3 linked regions of the Homo sapiens genome follow. The main gene of each other region encodes a partner of the protein of the gene in region 3 in a complex. Each region holds a gene or a part of one and is shown on either strand. Other genes may lie near its edges. A codon is read from its position in the direction of its gene.

The links. The genes of interacting proteins can lie anywhere in the genome.
Region 1: the proteins of NCAPH2 (region 3) and SMC2 are in contact, whole or in part, in a cryo-EM structure (PDB 9F5W), measured with the Homo sapiens proteins. Residues at the interface, in NP_689512.2 of Homo sapiens: Glu46, Phe53, Ile54, Glu55, Leu58, Leu59, Gly62, Ser63, Ala64, Cys65, Val66, Lys69, Tyr73; in NP_001036015.1 of Homo sapiens: Leu93, Thr125, Gln128, Asp129, Cys132, Gly135, Leu136, Asn137, Met173, Tyr174, Lys177, Lys178.
Region 2: the proteins of NCAPH2 (region 3) and SMC4 are in contact, whole or in part, in a cryo-EM structure (PDB 9F5W), measured with the Homo sapiens proteins. Residues at the interface, in NP_689512.2 of Homo sapiens: Arg494, Ile495, Trp498, Glu499, Thr501, Val502, Leu505, Leu506, Gln509, Glu510, His512, Phe547, Cys550, Arg551, Met553, Leu554, Leu557, Gln558, Ala560, Asn561, Tyr563, Val565, Glu566, Ile567, Gln569, Leu573, Glu574, Ala576, Val577, Asp578; in NP_001002800.1 of Homo sapiens: Ile100 (codon at 577), Leu101 (codon at 574), Gly102 (codon at 571), Pro103 (codon at 568), Ile112, Gly113, Pro114, Ser117, Gln1151, Met1152, Leu1155, Phe1227, Lys1228, Ser1231, Ile1232, Phe1235, Tyr1236, Glu1239, Gln1240, Asn1253, Asn1254, Phe1256, Glu1257, Arg1261, Gly1264, Ile1265, Tyr1266, Lys1267, Thr1268, Tyr1269.

The regions. Positions count from the first base shown.
Region 1 is NC_000009.12:104,139,309-104,141,919, reverse strand, and holds the end of SMC2 (structural maintenance of chromosomes protein 2), read right to left. Parts: coding exon 2,605-2,611; 3' UTR 501-2,604; downstream 1-500. UniProt on the Homo sapiens protein: Central component of the condensin complex, a complex required for conversion of interphase chromatin into mitotic-like condense chromosomes.
Region 2 is NC_000003.12:160,395,413-160,402,649, reverse strand, and holds the start of SMC4 (structural maintenance of chromosomes protein 4), read right to left. Parts: upstream 3,001-7,237; 5' UTR 2,901-3,000; intron 2,092-2,900; exon of another isoform or gene 1,829-2,091; 5' UTR 1,824-1,828; coding exon 1,685-1,823; intron 736-1,684; coding exon 557-735; intron 1-556. UniProt on the Homo sapiens protein: Central component of the condensin complex, a complex required for conversion of interphase chromatin into mitotic-like condense chromosomes.
Region 3 is NC_000022.11:50,503,300-50,512,508, reverse strand, and holds the start of NCAPH2 (condensin-2 complex subunit H2), read right to left. Parts: upstream 4,286-9,209; 5' UTR 4,172-4,285; coding exon 4,064-4,171; intron 1-4,063. Other genes in the region: LMF2 (lipase maturation factor 2), read left to right, coding at 4,834-4,927, 5,474-5,727, 5,843-5,871, 6,007-6,224, 6,296-6,474, 6,694-6,835, 6,972-7,106, 7,175-7,280 and 6 more. UniProt on the Homo sapiens protein: Regulatory subunit of the condensin-2 complex, a complex that seems to provide chromosomes with an additional level of organization and rigidity and in establishing mitotic chromosome architecture.

The DNA.
Region 1 (2,611 bases), on a different chromosome or scaffold from region 3:
GGACCTCTTTCTCCAGGTCCTCGTTTATCCCTTCTGAGACGTCTCCTTCACTTTCTGGAAGCTGTGGTTAGCCCAGATCCCATCTTTTAGTTCTCCAGACCAGAAAGACCCCAGGCTTTCCACTGCAGCCTTAGCTGTCCTACAGCTGCATCATGACTATAGCTGGTACTTAGGTTAAAAACATTAACCTTAGCTTGTGCCTGTCTCTTCCTCCGTATTTTATCTCCCATCCAAAATCTTTCTAGTTTTTCTTCAGTTTCCTGAACTCTCAGGTAGTTGTTTCTAGTATTTTGCTCAGAATCTATATTTATCATCTGTGGGAATGTTGGCCTTTAGATTATGCCACCCTATTGGAAGAGAAAATTTCATGTCTTTGCTTTGCATTTGCTGTGAGCTTACTTGAAATGCCAAAACCGCCACCACCACAATGAATCCTCTCTTCACATGGTTGAGGTTCTTCTTTAAGGTAACATTCACGTTGTACATACTGCTCATACAGGTATTTTTCTTAAATTTATTCTGTACAATAAATACAAATGTTCAAGCTGTCAGTGACGTAGTATATCTTAGGTTCTGGAGACTGACAAGATTTGTCCATGGGCCCTGACACTCCTAACTGTATTATCACCCTGAGCAAGTTTCCTAACTTTTCTGCTCAACTCACTCAATTCCTCGATTACACCATGCTGACAACAACAGTATTTACCTCACTAGGTTACTCTGAGGATTAAATATGACAATACATACAAATGAGAACAGCAGCTAATGTAAAGAAAGAGCTTGTTAAATATTAGTTAACTCATATTACTGCAGATGTGTGAAACAAATGTCCCCAATCCCCTTAATGTCTTCCCTCTAATGAAAAAAAGTTACAACAATTTAATACATGTTTGAGGGTTTTCAAAGATCAAGATTATACAAGACAAAAATCAGGAACGCACACAAGCAAAACATTTTTAGCAGAGAAAAGGAAATGAGTACGTAAGCCAAAATAGTCAAACTCCCAAATTATTTTTAAAACGTTGGCTAAAACAGCAATGAAGTACCACTTAATAACTAACTGTTAAATCAGAAATATTAAAATTAACAGCAAGTACTGACTAATTTGTATACTATGGTATACTTTAATATTGACAGTGTGAATTGGTAACTGTTTTGGCACAGTCTGTAATACATTTGAAAGGAAACAAAAAAACTATATTTGACATTGGACTTTCTGTAACTCAACATTTACAGCATTATTTCCTCTCCCCTCCACAGTGGACAGAACTAATTCCAGATTCAATCCTTTCCAATGTGTCCCATAATATCAATTACTGCATGTTTTCTGACATCTCATATGTATGGAGAATGAAGGGTGGGAAATGTCAAGCCCAGGGCCAGGAAGTACGGCCATATATCAGGGGAAGTATGATAATAACACTAAGGAAATAAGACTAAAAAATCAAGAAGAGATGTGGGGCCAAAATAACACATGGAAGATCAGATTACATCATGTCAGACCTTTCATGATTCAGTTTGGGGTCACTGTTCTAGTGATGACGTACCAAAAACTGTAGACAGTATTCTCATGGTGTTCGCTAGTGTCATCTTTCAAGTTCTAAAGGAATTTCATCCCTTTGAACTGGAAAGCGGAAGACAAATAATCATCCAACTTTTGAGTTATTTTGGTGGAACAGATGGATTGAGTTATTTATATTTATACATATATATATCAGACTCAGGGAAAAATAAATTTGGTTTAGTCTACTGGCACCTACATTCTTGTTTACCAATAGGTTGTTAATGACTGGATTATGAAAAGGCTGACAAAAATCTTGGAAAATATTAACAAACTTCAGATAAATTTGCAGCAGATAGTACCACGCAACACACCTCCTAAGCTTTGATTTAAAAATACTTACACAGCTTAAAAAAACAAAAACATTAAAGTCGTAGAGACCAATTATTAAGCGTATAGGAACATGATATTCATGTATCATTAAAACGTAGAGACCAATTATTAAGCGTATAGGAACATGATATTCATGTATCATTAAAATAAGGATTCTTTCAAGATCTGTTTCCTATCTCAGTCTAAATCAGGGGTCTGGAGTTGTGGCCTTAAAAAACTAGCCTCAAACGGCTCCATGCATGCATAATAGCTTTATATGTGTTCCCTTTGTTGGTCCAGTTACCTGATTTATAATTCTTCCTTACCTGAATGACTTTAGAAAACACATTAATATTGCCTTAGGAATTAAATCAATTAAACACTGATGATCAGCTACATTTATCATGTAATTTAATCTGCTTTTTTGTATATTAGCTTTTACATATAGAATCGGGTATCTCAGGATCCCTAATATATAAAAGACCCGCATAAGAAAAAAACATTTGATGATATGCATAAAATCACAACCACAATAATTGGACCATAATTAGACTAGTTAAGAGATGAGGAATATATGCTCATTTGTAAGCGATAAGTGATTATATAAAGAGAAAACATGGGTTAAGTAACACAGTAACATTAATTTTTGTATATAAACAAATTAGTTATCTCAAGTCCTTAAAAGTTTACATTTAAAAAAACAGGTCAAGATGAAGAAATAACTTTGTAGTTTAAACT
Region 2 (7,237 bases), on a different chromosome or scaffold from region 3:
ACGGAAAAGTTCATAAGGTCATGCTAATACTACTGATTTTAACTGAAACTGTTAGATTTTTTTACTTGCAGTTAAAAACTGCAAGTATTTAAAAGTTCTCATTGCTAATCACAGGCATACGACTTGAGTTTTCTTACATCAAGTTCTCTCTTAAAAGCTTCAACATTCAATAAGAATGCTCCAATTCTAACGCAGACGTTTTAGAAAACTCATTTTATAGTTAAATTATCTAAGGGTTCCATAGAAGGCTTTAAGAAAAAAAAATTATCCAAGGGAAAATACTCTTTCAAACAGAAACACACACCGACTCCATTCAATGGAAAACTTTGTAACTAGAGGTACCAAAGATAACCAGATAAACAAAAGATAATTTCAGTGTTAAAATCATATGAAACGTGTGTGTGTGTGTGTGAGAGAGAGAGACAGAAAGACTATCAGGATAAATAGGGAGTGAATGAATTTTAGGATAGTTACAAAACTGAAACATCTTGTAAAAACGTATTACCTTACAATAGTTATTTAAAAAGTTATAAAATAGTTATTTCCATACAAATACCTTATGGAAAGGTCCCAGAATTTTCTCCCCAGCATAGGATTTGAAGTTCTGGTTTACAATATGAGTTATCATAAGCCGAGGAGCTCCAGCTTCATTGGTCATTGCTGGAGGCGGGGGAGGAGGAATGCTGTTCAAAATCTCTTCTAAACTTCTATTATCAAGTTCCTCACTTGCAGTCTCTAAGTCAGTGAAAGGAAAGGAAAACGAAGGCAAACGGCGGGGGAAAAGCCTACATTAGTGCAATTAGTTCGGAGAACTAATGACTGCCCATCTTTAAAGTAGGGGATGGAGGGATGTTATTTATGAAACTTAGGAGTCTATATTTTCCACTTAAATATGTTATTATCTTAAACTCACGGGGGTGACTAAACCTTCAGCTTGGTTTTACTAAAAAAGAAATTCTTGAAAGAAATGCCACCGGTCACAAAATTCTATACACCTATACCTCTTAAGAGTCAAAACACTACATCATAGAGCAAATCTGGGAAAACCGTAACAAGCTATTTCCTGCTGCCTATCCTAAACAGGAGGTTAAATCCTAAGGCTCTAGATGCAATTCTCCGTACCGCTGAGCACCTGGAACCTTCATTTTGGAAACTCATGAACTTCAGCGACACTGCCACGAGGGTTTAATAATGTCACCCAACTCCTGGACTCACAAAAGCTACAGTGGCTTCAAATAAATTATCGTCTTCTCTTTAACGGCAATCTAACACCACGGAGGTGAGGTTAGGGTCAAAAAACTTTTCATCATGCTCACATAGTCATATTGATTGTCTCTGGGAAAAAAGTCCACTTGCTCTCTTGATTGACCGTCTCGATTTTAGCGGGAATACAATAAAGATATTGAATTTTTGTTTGTGACCTGTACCATTCCACAGGTCACAAACAAAAATTCACAACTGAACCCGTTTGCTCGCCCCCATCCCTTCCAGCGCCGTTACACCAAAATTGCACGGGAATCCTATCTCAAAGTTGCCAAATGGCTTTCCTGAGCCTCTACCGGACCGACACCGGACCTTCAGATGTCAACTCCGCGCTCAACAACCCCAGCCAGCCTCGGGCTGGGCGCGTTTGCCTGCCAGTCCCACAGCGCGCGTTCCCGCCGAGTCGCGGCGGGTCACTCACCTGCGGCGGTGGCTGGGCTCTCCGTGCGGCCGGACGGCGGCTCAGGCTCCGCGTCGCTGCTGGCGCCGTCAGGGGACGGCGGCGGCGGCCCTTCCTCTCTGCGCCGGGCAGTGGAGGGCTGGGTGCCTTTACGGGGCATGGTCGCTGGGGCCGGGGGACAGCCGGGAGCAAGTCAGCCCGCGGGCCGCTACACCGCGCCCGCCCCACCCGGGGAAATCTCGGTCCACCGGCTTCCGAGAGCCCCGCTTAACACTCCGCTTAGAGGCAGCGGGACTTCGGGAAGGGAGCCATCGAAAGACACGAGTGGCAAGAAGGCAGGACTGGTTTCTTAACAAGACCTATGTAAGTGGGAAAATCTAGACGTGCCTGAGGATCAATCAACGATTGAGCAACTGCTTAGTTTGTTGTTGTTGTTTTTAAGGCTCTCCACCCGTCCGCCCATAGTATAAGCGTATAATATTCGCTAACGCATTTCTAATTAAGGAACTCCCATACGCCAGCATTTCCGGACATTCCCACGCTTTCGGGGCCAGGGATGCAAGCGCGCACCGACGTGGAGAAACGAGTTCGTGTCCGGGTCAGGATCCCGTGGCTAGCAACTCTCTCCAGAGCGGTGAAGACTAACTGGCGACTCGCCGCCCGCTTTCGTCTGCCCGCCCTTTAGCTCCTGGCGCCGTTGACGGCCCGGGGCATAACGAAGTCTCCCTCCTCTCAGCGGTCGGACCGCGAAGGGCGAAGGCTGGGACTAACCACTAGCAACTTCAAGTCGGACGCTGGCAGCGCTTGCTAATTTTGGAGTGGCAAGAGTTTGTCTCTCCAGCTCCCCAGGCGGAGTCCCGTTGGACAGTAAACCATGAAAGGTCACCAGCGAAGGCTGAGACCCGGTGACTAGTCCGTTGGCAGAAGGAAGAGGGGTAGGGGGAGACGCCCTTTTCCAGATAGAGACTAGGATTTTTTAAAGAAAAGATCTGCGAGGCTCAGGGCCTCCCCGAGACATTTGAGTAGCTTGGAAAAGTGGCGCCCGGGAGCTGCGCGCGGGAGCCCGGGCCGCCGGGGAGCGGCCGAGGGGGGAGGGGTGACAGCAAGAGAAATCTCCCAGCGGCAGCTTCAAGCCCGGACTTCGCCGCTCGGGCTCAAGGCCTCTATTTTCCAGGCGCTCGCGGACAAGGCAGGAAGTAAGAGCGTGACAACCTGACCAGGAAGAGAAGTACTTTACCTGCAGGACAGTCCACTCAGACCAAGGCTGGAGACGGTTGTGTAGTACCCACCTCCCCGCTCCTACCGGTGTTTCGGCTCCGGGTCCTTCACTCGAAAATGGCGCCTAAAATACAAACTCGAACGGAAATTCGTTACAAATGCGCGCAATGATTTCTGGGATCCACTAATTTGAAAAAAAGTGCGGCGATTATCACCGCCATCTTATTGTCGCTCCTGCGCATGCGCGAACTCCTGGCGGGACCTACGCGGTAGAAGTTTCTACTAAGTGAAAAGGAAGAGCGAGGGATTCTTTTCTCTGTGGTCTACAGCAGCAGCACTATTATTAAAAATATTTGGAAAGACAACCTGGCAAGTTTTGAAAAAGATTTTTTTAAAAACGGTAGGGTTCCGCTCACAGTGGGAGGCGGGGCTCAGTGGTCCAGAAACGCCTCTTCAGAAGAGGGCGGGCTCGCCGAGAGGCGGGGTCTCGGGCCCACTCGGATGACGTGCCGCGTAGAAGTATCGCGGGAAGAGGAAGGGAGCGTAACTCTTAGAAGTCACTATGGTGACGGGGAGGTACCAGGTATTTGAGAGCAATCGCCACCGCTTTCCTGGAACTTGAGGTAAATCCCTTCACCTCTGGACCTGGTGAGAAAAGGGTTTGGAAGTTGTAGCCATCACTGGATCCCATCTTTCCTGTTTTGAAGCTGTGTGCTTCGTGGAGCATCATTTTCTGTCTCCCTGGCGGCAGCGGGGCTCCGGGTGTAGCTTTTGGGATGCGAAGGAGGAAGCCCTAAATTTTAAGGGAGTAGAGAGACAACTGGAAGACCTGGATTCGTGATAGCTTAGTCGACATGTGAATAGCGCAATAATGATTTTCGAGATCATTGGTGTTACTAGTGAAAGGTTTAGGACTTTTAAAATAATTTGACTAAAAGGCTCTTTAGTGGAAAAAACGACTCGCCAGTGTTATGGTTATTTTTATGAGGAAATTATCGATCAGCAAATATTCCCTAAGTAGTGTTTGTATACATTGCCCTGGGTAAGGCATAATTAGAATTAGTAAGCAAGTTTGGCGATTCCTGTTCCCCGAGAACTTAGTTTTAGTGGGTTTTTAACCTGAGGTCTGTGGATCTGGTGGTAGGTGATTGGGCTTCAGAGTTCATAACTCGCCTGACATTGTATACATAATTCTATGTGCATTTTTCTGGGAAGTTAGTTTTCCTACAACTTTATAATCAGAATCTCATACTTGCTCCTAATTCCCTATATTGTTAAAGAGCCACTGGCTCATTTGACTATCTCCAGTATTCATGCAACAACTCTTAAGTACTTGACATTGAGAACTACTAGCCTCCTTTTTTTTTCTTTAACTTTTGCTTACTTAGGGTCTGGCATGTTAAATCACCATTAAATCTCCCTTTTGAATGAATTTACATGATCACTCTAAATACATTATGGTTCTTCCCTGGAAGAGCATGAAGTCAGGTTCAGTGATTCTCAAAAAGGTGTGGAGAGCCACCCCCCTCCCAACCAATTGTAAGAATTTGGTGAGGTTGGGAGACTGGTGTGTATTGCATAAGCGTAGACTCAATATCGTGATATATCTTTATGTTTGAAGTTAAAAACGAATTGTTGTTTTCATAAAACAAGCTACAGAAAATAAACCTTAATGAAAAAAAGTTTTTTGGCTGGTAAGCATACCAAGAAGATATAAGGATTATCTTTGAGGGCTTCTGGAATTTTTGCATTTCCAAAGGTTGTAAAACACTACAAAACCTGAGTTGGGGAGGTATCAACTATGCGGATCACCTGAGGTTGGGAGTTCGAGACCAGCCTGACCAACATGGACAAACCCCGTCTCTACTAAAAATAAAAAATTAGCAGGGCATGGTGGCGCATGCCTGTAATCCCAGCTACTAGGGAGGCTGAGACAGGAGAATCTCTTGAACCCGGGAGGCGGAGGTTGCGGTGAGCCGAGATAGTGCCGTTGCACTACAGCCTGGGCAACAAGAGCGAAACTGCGTCTCAAAAAAAAAAAAAAAAAAAAAAGTATAGACCAAATTGAGTGGTGTATTTGGGGCAACAGAGCACAATGTAGTGGAAAGATGTAATATAGAAAACAGAATCCCAAGTTCCATCATTTTTTAGGTATATGCTTGACAGTTTCCTCAGTTTGTCAATCTTGAGAGTATTTATTTATGAAACTAGCATATAATACCTGTCTCATCATACTGTTTATGATTGTTCATCTAGCACATGCTCCATAAGGATTTGATTTTGCTGTGTTTATGACATTGAACTTATCAAAGTATGCTAAGGATGAATAATGGGATATCAAGTTAGAGGAAGGGTAGCTCCTGAAGGATCTTGAAAACCAAGTCAAGGATGTTAGATATGATATGGAGGAAACAGCTTTTAGAACAATTCTGAGCCAAGGAATGACTTGGTAAATATAGGAAGAATAATTAACAGTAGTTATGTGGGGTATGTTAAAGGGGAAAGAAACTGAGATCAGTCTAGGCTTTAGTTAAGATTGTTACTATATAACAGTAAGTGAGAAGTGCCTAAGTAGGATGGAAAAAAATCTGGAGTCATTTTGGGGTAAAAATCTATAGCTTTTGTAGATTGTGATGGTTCAGAGTATAAACCCTTGAAGTCAGTCATATACTATTCTTTGTGTATCCTTGAATTAGTGATAAGGTATAGGAAGAACGATAAGTCACAGAAAATATAGTTTTGATAAATCAACTGACTGATGGCCTTAAATTTAATTGAACCTAACCATTGCCCACTCAGAAAACTATTTTGAAAAGGGGCATAAACCAGGTTGTATAATGAGAAAACATAACAAACAGCTACAGAGTAGACTTAAATCTGGAGATTTATATATACCACAAAAATAAGACATTCAGAATAAGTATAAATTTTGAGAAGATATTAGAGTCACAAGAAATAAAGACTTTTGGTTGATTGTTGCCAATATTTTGGACATGTCTCATGAAATTAACAGAGTTTAATTACAAAGAGAAGCTGGCCTACCTGGAAAAGACTGGGTTACAGTCATTTTGGAAAGTATTGCTATAACTGGGTCTTATCTTCCTAGTCTAAAATGATCTGTCAGTAATCTCTATCTGCAATTTCAGGCAGTCTTAGAAGGAAAACCTCACTTTTTACATTAGAAAAAAATTATACCCCACAGGAAGAAATAAGTTCAAAGAGAAAAATTGGAATTAGAATTAAAATCTTCATTTTCAGTTCTTTAAGTGCAAGGTTTTTTCATCATTTTAACAATATGTGTTTTGTTTGCCTTCTAATGTCATAACATTTCAGAAAGGCTGAAATTAGATTTCTGAGTAAATATTTTAAAAGATTAAATTTGTAATTGTAAATATTTAGATAAATTAGATATTAACTAATATGAATTTATGTAAGTATTGTATAAATATTTAGAGAATATTGTTCAAGATTAATAAATTAGATATAGACACAGTGCAGATAGAAGTGAATATTCCTCTTGATAATATAAGCACCTTGGTATATTAATGTTACCGAAACACACATAACTTATCACCGAAAACCCAGGAAGCTAGAAGGCAGAACAGCTCTTTTTTGGAAATATCATTTTGAAAGATAAGTATGTTTTTATTCCGTAGGTTGGAATTCTGGAAAGATATATTCAACAAGCAGTAGAGGTAGAGAGTATGGCTTAAGAGAGAAAATAAAATGGGTAGTGCTGTAAGAATAACTGGATCACTAAAAATAGGTTAGGTTTTTAAGATTGTAAGTGGAGAGAAGCTAGCACCAGACCAAGGATATTAAGGAAATGTTCATTTTTAGAATGTAAGAAGAAGAAATAATTACAGTAATATCTAGGATAGGAGCCTGTTGATTACAAGTGACAGAAAACCCAATCCAAATTGTCTTGAGAAAAAACAAATATTGTCTCCTGGAACTAAAAAGTCAGGTGACTATAACTGGATTAAGGGTTCAGACAAAGACACAAGGATTTGGTTTCTTTCCTTGCTTTGAACTCCATTGTGTTGGCAGTATTTTCAGGTTCCGTATGATGGCCTCTAGCACCTTTTGGCTCTCCCCTTGCTGTGGTAAGATAGCTACAGCAACTCCAGCCTCATATCTTCTAAAATTAAAATCCAAGGGGGAATGAGAGTTTCTCTTCCCCAGCATTGATTTGAATAAAAGTCCTGGGCCACCTGTGAAACAGTCTGTGCAAAGGGAATGGAATGCTCTAATTGGCTTAAGTCTGGGCCTCATGCCACATGGGCTAACAGTGAGGAAGTGGTTGTTGCAAAGAGAAATTCTTTTTAGGTGGGAAAAGAGTGACTATATATATGC
Region 3 (9,209 bases):
GTGTGTGGAAAATGACAGAAGGAAAAAGATAATACTAGAAACCAGGAAATCAGGACTTCAAGCTGCAGAGGTTTGGAAGAGCAGACATAAGAAAGCAGGAAGGGAGCTGACCAAGCCAGGAAGGAGATTTACCAAGTGAACAGGTGTCCTCATGGACCCTGCTTGATGTGAAAACCTGAATCCACAGGAGCTCTGCCCAGCACAGTTCCCCGTATTTTCTCAGCCAACTATGCATGAGAGCAGAGAAGTTTGGTCATCAGATCACATGTGCATTTAACAAACACTTTAACGTCCACACCTATGTGCCAGGCACTCTACTAAGCAGACAAAAGAGGGCATAAGTATGGTCCCTGCCCTGGCAGAATTCACATTCTAGGGTGGAGACAGGCCACAAACAGGTAAATGAGTTGAAGAATGGCTTGTGGCCAGTCGCAGTGGCTCACACCTGCAATCCCAGCACTTTCAAAGGATGAGGTGGGCGGATCACGAGGTCAAGAGTTCAAGACCAGCCTGGCCAACATGGTGAAACCCCATCTCTACTAAAAATACAAAAATTAGCTGGGGCCAGGCACGGTGGCTCACACCTGTAATCCCAGCATTTTGGGAGGCCGAGGCGGGTGGATCACGAGGTCAGGAGACCAAGACCATCCTGGCTAACATGGTGAAACCCTGTCTCTACTGAAAAATACAAAAAAATTAGCCAGGCGTGGTGGCGGGCGCCTGTAATCCCAGCTACTGAGGAGGCTGAAGTAGGAGAATGGCGCGAACCCAGGAGATGGAGCTTGCAGTGAGCCGAGATTGTGCCACTGCACTCCAACTTGGGCCACAGGGCAAGACTCTGTCTCAAGAAAAAAAAAAAAATTAGCCAGGCGTGGTGGCAGGCGCCTGTAATCCCGGCTACTCAAGAGGCTGAGGCAGGATCGGACGCGGTGGCTCAGGCCTGTAATCCCAGCACTTTGGGAGGCCGAGGCGGGTGGATCATGAGGTCAGGAGATCGAGACCATCCTGGCTAACACGGTGAAACCCCGTCTCTACTAAAAAAATACAAAAAATTAGCCGGGCGTGGTGGCGGGTGCCAGTAGTCCCAGCTACTCGGGAGGCTGAGGCAGGAGAATGGTGTGAACCCAGGAGGTGGAGCTTGCAGTGAGCCGAGATTGCACCACTGCACTCCAGCCTGGGCGACAGAGTGAGACTCCGTCTCAAAAAAAAAAAAAAAAAAAAAAGAGGCTGAGGCAGGAGAACTGCTTGAACCCAGAAGGTGGAGGCTGCAGCAAGCTGAGATTGCACCACTGCACTCCAGCCTGGGTGACAGAGTGAGACTCCATCTCAAAAAAAAAACATATAAATAAATAAAATTTTTTTTGGCTGGGCGCGGTGGCTCATGCCTGTAATCCCAGCACTTTGGGACACCGACACGGGCGGATCACCAGGTCAGGAGATCGAGACCATCCTGGCTAACACGGTAAAACCCCGTCTCTACTAAAAATACAAAACATTAGCCGGGTGTGGTGGCAGGTGCCTGTAGTCCCAGCTACTCGGGAAGCTGAGGCAGGAAAATGGCGTGAACCCAGAAGGCAGAGCTTGCAGTGAGCTGAGATCATGCCACTGCACTCCAGCCTGGGCGACAGAGTAAGACTCCATCTCAAAAAAAAAAAAAATTTAAATGGTTTATGATAAACATTCTAAAGTGTGTAAGGTGCTGAGATGGAGAGGACTATTTTAGATAGGGTGGTCAGCTGACATTTACACTAAGACCTTAAGAATGAAAAGGACTCAGTCAGCCAGGCGTGGTGGCTCACGTCTGTAATCCCAGCACTTTGGAAAGAGGCAGAGCTGGCTGGATCACCTGAGGTCAGGAGTTTGAGACCAGCCTGGCCAATGTGGCGAAACCCATCTCTACTAAAAATACAAAAATTAACTGGACGTGGTGGTGCATGCCTGTAATCCCAGCTACTCGGGAGGCCAAGGCAGGAGAATTGCTTGAACCTGGGAGTCGGAGGTTGCAGTGAGCCAAGATTCTGCCATTGTACTCCAGCCCGGGCAACAGAGCAAGACTCCATCTCAAAAAAAGAAAAGAAAACAAACTCAGTCATTGAAAGAATATTCCCAGCCAGGTGTGGTGGTGCACAGCTATAGTCCCAGCTACCTGAGAAGCTGAGGCAGGAGGACTGCTTGAGCACAGCAGTTTGAGACCAGCCTGGGCAACACAGTAAGATCCTCCTCTCTGATTTTTTTTTTCTCCTTTTCCTTGCCATATGAAGTCCCTCTTTATTTAAAAACAAAAAAGAGGCCGGGCGCGGTGGCTCACGCCTGTAATCCCAGCACTTTGGGAGGCCAAGGCAGGCGGATCACGAGGTCAGGAGATCGAGACCATCCTGGCTAACACGGTGAAACCCTGTCTCTACTAAAATACAAAAAAATTAGTTGGGCGTGGAGGCGGGCGCCTGTAGTCCCAGCTACTGCAGAGGCTGAGGCAGAATGATGTGAACCCAGGAGGCGGAGCTTGCAGTGAGCTCAGATCGCGCCACTGCACTTCCGTCTCAGAGTGAGACTCCGTCTCAAAATATATAAATAAATAAATAAAAACAAAAAAGAAGATTCCCAAGTGGGGGCAGAAAGCATGAAGATCTTCCACCAAGAAAAAGCTTGGAGGGGCCATAGGTTGACTGGTTCAAAAGAACAAGATACAAAACAGCCCAAAATGAGGCTAAAATGGAGAGCAGAGCCAGGTTCAGAGAAGGAAATTTGGGTTTTATTCTGGGCATAATGGAAAGCCACTGAGGGGTTGATTTTAGGCAGAAAACAGTGCTGTGGCCAGATTTTAATTTTTAAGAGTCACACTTGCTGCTGGTTGGAGCACGAATTGGACGGGACAAAAACAGGGATAAGGGAACCCAAATAGGAAGGTTTTACACAAATCCAGGCCAGAGACAATGGTGGCCTAGACCAAATAAAATGGACAACAGATGAATTCAAGTGATATTCCGGTGGTATAACTGATGGAATTCATGGATGAACTGAGTGTTAAGCATGGGGCTTCACTATAGCCACATTTAGCTTTTGCTTTTGGTTGAACAGCGGTGTCATTTTCCGAGATGGGAAAAGCTGGGGTTTAAGCAGAAAAATGAAGAGTTCCACTTTAAATATGTTAAATGAGATGTTTGCGTGACACCCACTAGATGTCAAGAGAGCAGCTGGATATGTAAAGTAGATTTGGAGGAAAGATCTAGGATGGAGCTGCAGATCTGGTAGTTGTCCTAATACAGGCAATATTTAAAATCATAGAAATAAATGACACTTCAGGGTAAATGCATCAGAAGATGACCTAGGCCCCATCCTGAGGAACTCAACACTTAGAGACTGGATAGAAAAGAAAAATCAGGCAATGAAATAGGGAAAAAAAATCCTACCACCATGTTTCAAAAAGAAAGGAGTGGCCAGTCCAACAAATGCTGACTTATGTCCCTTGGATTTGGTAGAATGGAGATCACTGCTGATCAAGACAAGAAACATTTAAGTGTCGTGGACGCCAGACTGAGCTGGGCTGAGGAGTAAAAATGAAGCGCAAATATGGAGCAGACAGCTTAACACAGGTCTAGACAGGGCTGTCAAACATGGAAGAAACACTAATCGCTAACAGGATAGAGCATGGCAATAGCTTGAAATTGGTTTGAAAATCCAAGATAAAAAATTCCTCTGACATCGTGATCCAGACCTCTCAAACACACAAGCATGCTCGCAATAACTGCAATAAAAGCAATAATGCTTTCTAGTCTATTCCACTACGTTAGAGAAACGGCTGGTCACCACCCACTCAATCATTCACGGCTCGCTGACGGGTAGAAACCTGCAATGACAGGTCCACGCTAATCCAACAAGGGATGATTTGGGGAGGCAGAGATGGAGTTTGAAAAGAAGCAGGGAGCCCGAGGACCTGCGCGGCCAGAGCGCCAGATAGCCATAGGCGTGGAGACGGTGGGGCGCCCACAGCCCCGGGCCCGGAGCCCCCGCCCCGCAGCCCCACCCGCCGGCCCACCCCGCGTCACTCCCCCGCCGCCCTTACCTCCTCCAGATACTCGCCCAGCTGGGCCGCCACGTCCACCTCCCAGTTCTTGGTGAGGTCGCGGATGGGCTGCAAGAGGTGGGCGAAGCGCGCCTCCACGTCCTCCATGTCCGGGAGGGAACGGGCGGCAAAGGGACCGCAGGGCTGCCTTCCGAGGGGTACGGCGTCCTCAGCCCGCCACTAGTTCTGGCGCCATTTTGCTGTTCCCGCCCAGGAAAATGCGTAGGCGCGGCGTCGCGCGCATGTCTATGACGTAACGTGGGCAAAAGCCAGAGAGGCGAACCCCGGCGCCGCGCAGCGGGAGCTCACCGGAAGAGTCGCGGGGCGGGGTCGAAGCCTCCGGGAGGGGGGGGTGGGCGGAGCTTTGGGCTGCCACCAGTTTGGACGGGAGGGCTTTTGGGGCCGCCGTGGGTCGGGCGGGGCGGGGTGGGGCGGGGCCTGGAGCTGCCGCGGGCGAGCGGGCCGAGGAGGCGGGGCTTGGGGGCTGCCACGGGTTGGGGGGGCGGGGCGGTGAGGAGGCGGGGCCTGGGGCAGCCGCGGGCGGGCGGACGGGCCGAGGAGGCGGGGCTTGGGGCTGCCACGGGTTGGGCGGGCGGGGCGGTGAGGAGGCGGGGCCTGGGACTGCCGCGGGCGGGCGGGCGGGCCGAGGAGGCGGGGCTTGGGGCTGCCACGGATTGGGCGGGCGGGGCGGTGAGGAGGCGGGGCCTGGGGCTGCCGCGGGCGGGCGGACGCGGAGGGCGGGCCCTGCTCTAGCGGGCCGCGTAGCGGACATGGCGGGCTCCCGGCTCCCGCGGCAGCTCTTCCTCCAGGGCGTGGCGGCCGTCTTCATGTTTGCTTTCGCTTCCCTCTACACGCAAATCCCAGGTGAAGGCACCCAGGGTGGGACACCCCCAGCCTCGGCGCGGGACCCTATGTCCTCTTTTCTCTGTGCCCGGCACTCACGCAGTCCGGGGTTGGGAGTGAGGGCCAGGCCTTGGCGTGGGGTAGGGGGCGGCGGTTCGTGTCCTGCAGGCCGCTGTGGGGGTAGGAAGGTGTGCGGTGATCCATTTCCCGTAAGGCTCTGGACTCTGACCTGGGGTGGGGGACAGAACTCTGAGAGAGGTGGGAGAGAGGCTTCCTCCCAGACCTGGTGGGACAGGTAGGAGATCGGGCTGAGACCTGGAAGAGGGCAGTGGGCTCTGCTGGGTGGGAGGCCCTGACTCAGGTAGTTGAGCAGGCCTCTAGCCCTGGGACGGGGTTTTGACAGGTCCCGACCTGGGGGACGGGCTCTGGAGGGACTGCAGACTCTGACCTAGGGATGGAGGTATCCGCATGCTCTGACCTAGGCTGGGGGATCTGCAGGCCCTGACTCAGAGGTAGTCTAGTCTGCAAGGGCTGTCCAGGGCCTGGCCATGACATGCCCTCCCACAGGCCTGTATGGCCCCGAGGGCATCCTACCTGCAAGGAGGACGCTGCGGCCTCAGGGCAAGGGGCGCTGGCAGCAGCTGTGGGAGACCCCGACGCTGCTGTGGGAAGCGCCGAGACTGGGGCTGGACACGGCCCAGGGCCTGGAGCTGCTGAGCCTGCTGGGTGCACTAGTGGCCCTGGGAGCCCTGCTGCTGAGCCCACTGCGCCACCCTGTCATCTACTTGCTGCTTTGGGCCGCCTACCTGTCAGCCTGCCAGGCAAGTGGGACCTGTGACCAGCTCACTCTATCTCCAACCCCCACCACCCACCCCTGCCTCTACCTTACCTGAGTCCACAGACACACCCGCTCCCTGACAGCCCCTCTCTCCGCAGGTGGGCCAGGTGTTCCTTTATTTCCAGTGGTGAGTGACGGCTGGGCCTGGGGCTGTGGGAGGCTGGGTAGGGGGTGGGGGAGGGCTCTGCCCTTCCTGGGAGGACTTTCCGAGGGAAGCAGCTGTGTGGGGAGGGGCTCTTGGTGCTATTTGCTCTCCCCATAGGGACTCCCTGCTGCTAGAGACTGGCTTCCTGGCCGTGCTGGTGGCCCCGCTGAGGCCAGCCTCCCACCGCAAGGAGGCCCCCCAGGGCAGGCAGGCAGGGGCCCTGCCCCACGAAGACCTCCCCTTCTGGCTGGTGCGATGGCTGCTGTTCCGCCTCATGTTCGCCTCAGGCGTGGTCAAGCTGACCAGCCGCTGCCCTGCGTGGTGGGGGCTCACTGGTGAGGGGCCCGGTCTGGACCTGGGGTAGTCTGGGGGCTCGGCCAGCCCTGACTCCTGCCCTCGCCTGCAGCCCTCACCTACCACTACGAGACCCAGTGCCTGCCCACGCCCGCCGCCTGGTTCGCACACCACCTGCCGGTCTGGCTGCACAAGCTCAGCGTGGTGGCCACCTTCCTAATTGAGATCGCTGTGCCGCCCCTGTTCTTCGCCCCCATTCGACGCCTGCGCTTGGCTGCTTTCTACTCGCAGGTGGGTGAGGGCCGCAGCTGTCAGAGAGAGGCAGACAGGGCTCGGCCTTCAGCGCTGCTCAGCGTGCCCTGTTGGGGACAGCGTGGCTCCCGGGGACAGCTGGCAACCGCTGTTGGGAAGGCCTTGTAGCAGAGGGATGCACCCTGCAGGGTGGAGGTGGGTGCCTGCCACGGGGCCAGGCGTCAGTCTCCGGGAGCACTGAGAGCGGGCCGCCCCCAGGTGCTGCTGCAGGTCCTGATTATCATCACCGGCAACTACAACTTCTTCAACCTGATGACGCTGGTGCTTACCACTGCGCTGCTGGACGACCAGCACCTGGCTGCTGAGCCTGGCCACGGCAGCCGCAAGAAGACGGCCACCTGTGCGTGTCACTTGTCCAGCCCCCTGCCCTCCCAGGGGTTCTCCCCTCCAACACCCCCACAGGACTCCCACTCTAGCTGCACCCCAGCCCCCTGGCTGGGGACCCTCTGCTGACCCATGACTGTCCTGCCCCACAGCCTGGCCCAAGGCCCTGCTGGCCACCCTGTCGCTGCTGCTGGAACTAGCCGTCTACGGGCTTCTGGCCTATGGCACTGTGCACTACTTTGGCCTGGAGGTTGACTGGCAGCAGCGCACCATCCACTCCAGAACCAGTGAGTGCCGACCTGGGGGGGCCAGAGGGCAGGGGCGGACCAGTCCTCACACCCCCCTCCTCCACCAGCTTTCACCTTCCACCAGTTTTCTCAGTGGCTGAAGACACTGACGCTGCCCACTGTGTGGCTGGGTGTGGCCTCCCTGGTCTGGGAGCTGCTGAGTGCCCTGTGGAGGTACATGGCCCAGGAAGCAGGGAGGGGGCACAGGTGTGCAGGGCCGGCCTGACGACCTTGGGTCCTTGCCCACAGGTGGACCCAGGTGCGGGGCTGGCTACGGAAGCTCAGTGCTGTAGTCCAACTGTCCCTTGTGGGCACTGCGACCGTGGCCTTGTTCCTGATTAGCCTGGTGGGTAGCGCTGCAGGGCTGGGGGATGGGCTGGGGGCAGGGCAGCCCTGAGAACCTCCCACCTGTCTCCAGGTGCCGTACTCCTACGTGGAGCCCGGGACCCACGGGCGCCTCTGGACCGGGGCCCACCGCCTGTTTGGTGCCGTGGAGCACCTACAGCTGGCCAACTCCTACGGCCTCTTCCGCCGCATGACTGGGCTTGGTGGACGGCCTGAGGTGGTGCTGGAGGGCAGTTACGACGGCCACCACTGGACGGTGAGCCCTCCCAGGGCGGGCAGGGTGGTGGGGCCCAGGTCAGCGGGCCCAGCTGACCTCGGCCTGCCTGGCAGGAGATCGAGTTCATGTACAAGCCTGGGAACCTGAGCCGGCCGCCCCCGGTTGTGGTGCCCCACCAGCCACGCCTGGACTGGCAGATGTGGTTTGCAGCCCTGGGCCCACACACGCACAGCCCGTGGTTCACAAGCCTGGTCTTGCGCCTGCTGCAGGGCAAGGAGCCAGGTGCGGAGCGGGCTTGGGGGGTGTGGAGTGGGCTGGGGTGGAGCGGGGTGGGGAGGGGAGGGGCAGGGCGGGTACTGTGGGGGCCACGCTGATGCCTCTCGCTGCAGTGATCCGCCTTGTCCAGAGCCAAGTGGCCAGGTATCCCTTCCACAAGCAGCCGCCCACCTACGTCCGAGCCCAGCGCTACAAGTACTGGTTCTCCCAGCCTGGGGAGCAGGGGTAAGGCTGGGCACCGGGTGGGGTGTGGAGCCCGGGGTGCAGGGGTAAGGCCGGGCACCGGGGGGTGTGGAGCCCGGGGTGCAGGGGTAAGGCCGGGCACCGGGGGGGGGTGTGGAGCCCGGGGTGCAGGGGTAAGGCCGGGCACTGGGGGGGGTGTGGAGCCCGGGGTGCAGGGGTAAGGCCGGGCACCGGGGTGGGGTGTGGAGCCTGGGGTGCAGGGGTAAGGCCGGGCACTGGGGGGGGTGTGGAGCCCGGGGTGCAGGGGTAAGGCCGGGCACCGGGTGGGGTGTGGAGCCCGGGGTGCAGGGGTAAGGCCGGGCACCAGGGGGGGATGTGGAGCGTGAGGAGCTGAGGAGCAGGGGTAAGGCTGGGCACTGGCGATGGGGTATGGAGCCCGGGGTGCCTCCAGCTTCTGAACATCGGGTCCTGCTGCAGCCAGTGGTGGCGGCGCCAGTGGGTGGAGGAGTTCTTCCCATCCGTGTCCCTGGGGGACCCCACGCTGGAGACGCTGCTCAGGCAGTTTGGACTACAGGTAAGGGGGTGTCAGCCAGGCTGGGGGAGGTGGCAGGGGTGACCCCAGCCTCCCGGGGTAAACCCAGTAAGCACTTCCCCAACCTCCCTCCCTCCCTCCCTCCCACAGGAGAAAAGCCCACCTCGCACCCGCAGCGCCAACAGCACCCTGGCCCAGGCCCTCCACTGGACTCGCTCTCAGCTGTCTCCCCTGGAGGCCCCCGCCCTGCTCTGGGGGCTCCTCATGGCCGTGGGGGCTGTCAGATTTGTGCAAGCCCTGCTAGCACCCTGTTCTCTCCGGTCCTCCCCGCTGGCACCAGTCAGCGGGGAGAAGCGCAGGCCAGCCTCCCAGAAAGACTCCGGAGCTGCCTCCGAACAGGCCACCGCAGCCCCCAACCCCTGCTCCAGTAGTTCGAGGACCACCCGGCGAAAGAAGTAGCTGTGTTCTCCCAGCTGCACGTCCTGAGAGGGCCAGGTCGCCGGGAGTGCTCTGGCCTCCGGCAGGACAGGACCCAGCCACTGTGCCTTAG